Regions from separate parts of the Homo sapiens genome. Here region 1 is linked to region 2. The links come from fine-mapping of genetic effects on gene expression. A gene starts in region 2. The other region holds a variant in brackets. All regions are shown on one strand. Distances are from middle to middle.

Region 1 (2,816 bases), 27 kb before region 2:
TCACTGCAACGTCCGCCTCCAGGGTTCAAGCGATTCTCCCGCTTCAGCCTCCCGAGTAGCTGGGATTACAGGCGTGCACCACCACGTCTGGTTAATTTTTGTATTTTTAGTAGAGACAGAGTTTCACCATGTTGGCCAGGCTGGTCTTGAACTCCTGACATCAGGTGATCTGCCCACCTCGGCCTCCCAAAGCGCTGGGATTATAAGAGTGAGCCACTGCGCCCAGTCAAGTTTGCTTATCTTCTAAGTTTGTGGGGGATATTTGTCTTTTGTAGGGGATGCGGTTTGGTTAGCATCTGAAAGTCCTTCCGACACTTAAGAAACCAACTATCTTGTGAGTCTTTTCATTATAAAAGTCCCAATGGAGAGACACTTGCTCTTCCAGTACCCTGACAACAAAAATACAGAAACGAGACCCAAGACTAGCCAATCAGATACTCTCTTTGAAGAGCTGAGTCTTGGGCAAGCAACAAAGAGATGCTGCATTAGTTCAGGGTTCATTCTGGCACAGGTAGTGGTACCCTCTAGTATCTAGTGACCACCATTGGTGCTAGTGTCCAGAATGCCAGTGGCAGTTTCCAGTACCTAACAGTGACAGCATCTTAATCAGGTCATTCACGTTCCGGCCATGGCTGCAGCTCCAGCCTCGTGGATTCCCTTTGGTGCCTGCCCACACTCCAAACTTCAGCCTTGCCTCTAAGAGCTACTTAATATCTCCCTGAATAAATTCCTTTTCTAAGTTAGAAGAAGTAGATGTCTTATAGATTATCTAGTCTAAGCTTACTGGGATTCATAATATAAATGCAGGTAAATGGAATTCTATCTCTCTTAAAACTTATTTATCTGTCAGCTTAGGCTAAGTTACGCTGTGGTAAAAAATGACCTCCACAAACCTCAGTGGCTTATAAAAACAAAGATTTATTTCTCACCTTAATGTCCATTATGGGTCAGCTGTGGTTCCCGTCCATGTCATCTTCCCTCTGGACCTGACGAACCTGAGCTAATGGATCAGCTTCTGTCTGATATATTGCAGGTATCACTGGTTGAGAGAAAAGAGACCAAAAATAAAACCCCTGCTGGCTCTTGAAGCTTCCACACAGAAGTGATGTTCATCATCTCCCCTCATATGATGTTCACCAAAGCAAGTCACACATCGTGATGTATAATCTTCCTAAAGAGAGGGACATTGCAAATCACATGGAAAAGCCTGATCTGAGTGATGTGGTATCCTACAATGGTCCCACCGGGAGGGTCATCAAATATTTGAACAAGAATACAATCTAACACAGACTGTTATGACTCAGGGCTTTTTTTTTTAAATTATACTTTAAGTTCTAGGGTACATGTGCACAACACGCAGGTTTGTTACATA[C/T]GTATACATGTGCCATGTTGGTGTGCTGCACCCATTAACTCTTCATTTACATTAGGTATATCTCCTAATGCTATCGCTCCCCACTCTCCCCACCCCATGACAGGCCCTGGTGTATGATGTTCCCCAACCTCTGTCCAAGTGTTCTCATTGTTCAATTCCCACCTATGAGTGAGAACATGCGGTGTTTGGTTTTCTGTCCTTGTGATAGTTGGCTCAGAATGATGGTTTCCAGCTTCATCCATGTCCCTACAAAGGACATGAACGCATCCTTTTTCATGGCTGCATAGTATTCCATGGTGTATATGTGCGACATTTTCTTAATCTAGTCTATCATTGATGGACATTTGGGTTGGTTCCAAGTCTTTGCTATTGTGAATAGTGCTGCAATAAATATACATGTGCATGTGTCTTTATAGCAGCATGATTTATACTCCTGTGGGTATATACCCAGTAATGGGATGGCTGGGTCTAATGGTATTTCTAGTTCTAGATCCTTGAGGAATTGCCACACTGTCTTCCACAATGGTTGAACTACTTTACAGTCCTACCAACAGTGTAAAAGTGTTCCTATTTCTCCACATCCTCTCCAGTACCTGTGGTTTCCTGACTTTTTAATGACCGCCATTCTAACTGGTGTGAGATGGTATCTCGTTGTGGTTTTAATTTGCATTTCTCTGATGGCCAGTGATGATACACATTTTGTCATGTGTCTGTTGGCTGCATAAATGTCTTCTTTTGAGAAGTGTCTGTTCATATCCTTTGCCCACTTTTTGATGGGATTGTTTGATTTTTTCTTGTAAATTTGTTTAAGTTCTTTGTAGATTCTGGATGTTGGCCCTTTGTCAGATGGGTAGATTGGAAAAATTTTCTCCCATTCTGTAGGTTGCCTGTTCACTCTGATGGTAGTTTCTTTTGCTGTGCAGAAGCTCTTTAGTTTAATTAGATCCCATTTGTCAATTTTGGCTTTTGTTGCCATTGCTTTTGGTGTTTTAGACATGAAGTCCTTGCCTATGTCCTGAATGGTATTGCCTAGGTTTTCTTCTAGGGTTTTTATGGTTTTAGGTCTAACATTTAAGCCTTTAATCCATCTTGAATTAATTTTGTATAAGGTGTAAGGAAGGGATCCAGTTTCAGGTTTCTACATATGGCTAGCCCGTTTTCCCAGCACCATTTATTAAATAGGGAATCCTTTCCCCATTTCTCGTTTTTGTCAGGTTTGTCAAAGACCGGATGGTTGTAGATGTGTGGTATTATTTCTGAGGGCTCTGTCCTGTTCCATTGGTCTATAACTCTGTTTTGGTACCAGTACCATGCTGTTTTGGTCACTGTAGCCTTGTAATATAGTTTGAAGTCAGGTAGCGTGATGCCTCCAGCTTTGTTCTTTTGGCTTAGGATTGCCTTGGCAATGCAGGCTCTTTTTTGTTTCCATATGAACTTTAAAGTG
Region 2 (2,816 bases):
TGCTGAGCAAGTTGGATAAGTTTCTTGACCATTCTGTGCCTCAATTTCCTCATCTACAAAATGGGAGAAATCCAACATCCTAGGATTAATGAGAATTAAATGAAAGTCTTGATAAAGTGCTTTGAACTATGGCTGTCACACAGTAAGTGTGAATAATAGGATGTGAATCTACAATTAAAAGGCTTAAAAATATCTACCAAACCAGGCATTGTTCTACAGCAGGGGGTCAGCACACTTTTTCTGTTAAAGATCAGAAGGTATATATTCTAGGCTTTGTAGGCCATACAATCTCTATGGACTACTCAACTCTGCTGCTATTGTAGCAGCAACAGCAGATACAGAAAATAACATAAATGGATAGGCATGATCTTGCTCTGGTAACACTTGTTTACAAAAACAGGCAGGCTGGATTTGGCTGCAGGCCATAGTTTGTTGACCCTTTTCTAGAGCAGGGCTGTGCAACATATATATAACATGTAAACCACAAATATGATTTAAAATTTTCCAGTAGTCATGTTAAAAAATAAAAATTGGTGAAATTAATTATACATTTTATTTAACCCAGTGTATCCAGAATAGTCATTTCAACATGTGATTAATATAAACAAATTGAGATATTTTACATTCTTTTTCATGCTAATTCTCGAAAATTCACTGTGTCTTACACTTACAGCACATCTCAATTCGGACTAGCCACATTTCAAGTGATCAAGCCTTATGTAACTAATGGCTATCATTATTGGGACGCCACGGTTCTAGAACTGATGCTAATATGGATAATGCTTGCTTAGGTGCATACCTATACCAAAAAGTGTATACAGTGCCAGGAAAAGTAGGCACGAAATATGGTATTGGATCCATATAAAAACTTATAAAGATTAGCTAATATTATAGTAAGCAAGGTGCACACATCTGCACAAAAATGGCCTAAACCCTGAGAAGAACGAGAGGAAAGGTCTGGAAACAATGTTTCCAGAAGTTTGTAACAAGTCAAAAATAACCTAGATCTGTTCAGATCTTTAGATCTCTTTAAAGCCTAAAGAGAAACTGTAACTTTCTAGCCCTAACCCACTTAACAGCTCCCCAGCTTCACAGGGAGCCCCGCCCTCTATGGAGAGAAACGATGCCAAATGTTGGCAGCGGTGTAGCGGTTACTGAACAGCCACTCAGCACTGCACTAGGACCATTTCCCTTAATGGTGACCCCTAGTAAAGGTGCAGCGAGAGGAAGGGACCAGCCCAACTGCCCGGTCTAGCCCGGGTTCGAGTTCCGGTGGGTGGGGTCGAGCAACATGCAAAGCCTGCCGCTAATCATCTTGGGATGACGGCCCGGCACCCAGCACACAAACAGCGACAGTCCCGAGGGTTCAGCCCACTCTGGCGACCTCGACAGTCGGAGAGGAAGGGGCGGGGGTGCGAGCACCTTCGGATCTACGCCGCCCAGGGCGCACCGGAAAGCTGCCGCGAGCCGGGGTGGGCTTCCGCTGGGAATAAGGGCTCGCCTTTTTGCGGGACACAGGCCCTGGCAAACCTGAAGCATGACTCACCGAAAAGCGCAGGCGCAGTTCCGGAGCCTTCAGCCGCCCAGTGCCCACGGAGAACTTCCGATCACCGGGACTGGGACAACGTCAAGGCTCAGCCAATCCAAGCCCACAGGCCGGCGCACGTGGTCCTGGGACCCAGTGCATGCGCGCTAGGGAAATGGCTGCCGTGGGACTGCGCTCGCGCGGCTTCCTAGAGGAGGAGCCATGGCCCCGCCCCGGGCCCGAGAGAAAGAAACTGCACTTTCGTTTTTTAGCAGCAAAGTTTGTTGATGTACTTTACAACTTATCTTTTCTGCTTCTACTCAGGACAGTCAAGACAGTGCTCAGCTAGATGTTCACATAACTGTAGACATAAATGTGAATCTATTTAACGCAGTAATTAATTCAAAAAGTGTTTTTAGCATCCTAGCATGCATCAGTTGATATGAAAGTAGTAAATGTTAATTGAGTGGTCTTGTGCATCCTGGACTTCTCATCTGTGCATATTCTCATTCTTTGCCTGCAAAGGGCCAGTAAAAGCACAGTGATGGTTGAACGAATGTGACAGCCTCCTTTGCTGATGCCTTACCCCAAGGTAATTTGGGGAAAGGTTCAGGGAAACAGAGTATCCAATCCAATACTCTGGACTGGGTGCTGGCAGGAAGGAGGGCGATTGTATGATTAAGTATCATAATAAATCTTACCTAAAAGGAGGGGAGACAAGACCAGTGACTCATTAACTGGGATAGGGGATGTTTGGTCATTTTTGTGGTTTGGACAATGTTTACGTTTTTTCAGCATTCCCACGTGATTACGAAGGAGTCTTGTTTTTGTCTTGATCCATCTGGTCAAAGAGTGGCCACGTCTGATGGTGTTCTGTGAAGTATTTATGTTCCACGCAGCACCAAGGCCCAGCTGTGACTGCCGGGGCAGCTCAGAGCTGTCAGGGGTTACTTTTTTCTTGCTGTCTATTATAGGGCTAAAATGTTTAAGGATTATATAATACCTTTTTAAAGAAAAAATTATTTGGCTGGGCGTGGTGGCTCATGCCTGTAATCCCAGCACTTTGGGAGGTCGAGGCAGGCGGATCATGAGGTCAGGAGATCGAGACCATCCTGGCTAACACGGTGAAACCCCGTCTCTACTAAAAATACAAAAAATTAGCCAGGCGTGGTGGCACGTGCTTGTAATCCCAGCTACTTGGGAGGCTGAGGCAGGAGAATCGCTTGAACCCGGGAGGCGGAGGTTGCAGTGAGCTGAGATCGAGCCATTGCACTCCAGCCTAGCGACAGAG

The links. PIP is the estimated chance that this variant, and not a neighbour inherited with it, causes the effect.
Region 1: its variant is the best candidate, but not a certain one, in a credible set for the expression of TCEANC in tibial artery (GTEx, PIP 0.55).

Annotation. Positions count from the first base shown.
Region 1 is chrX:13,678,712-13,681,527 of GRCh38, reverse strand. No RefSeq gene overlaps it. Among named protein-coding and RNA genes, the nearest start is that of RAB9A, 9.0 kb to the left of the region's middle. The variant C/T (reference allele first, on the strand shown) is at 1,373.
Region 2 is chrX:13,651,919-13,654,734 of GRCh38, reverse strand. It overlaps TCEANC (transcription elongation factor A N-terminal and central domain containing), which reads right to left and starts at 1,594. Exons shown (of 5, transcript NM_001297563.2): 1 at 1,547-1,594. It overlaps LOC107985657 (a long non-coding RNA gene), which reads left to right and starts at 1,296. Exons shown (of 1, transcript NR_171573.1): 1 at 1,296-2,238. RefSeq lists enhancers at 1,372-1,461, 1,722-1,911 and a silencer at 1,482-1,793.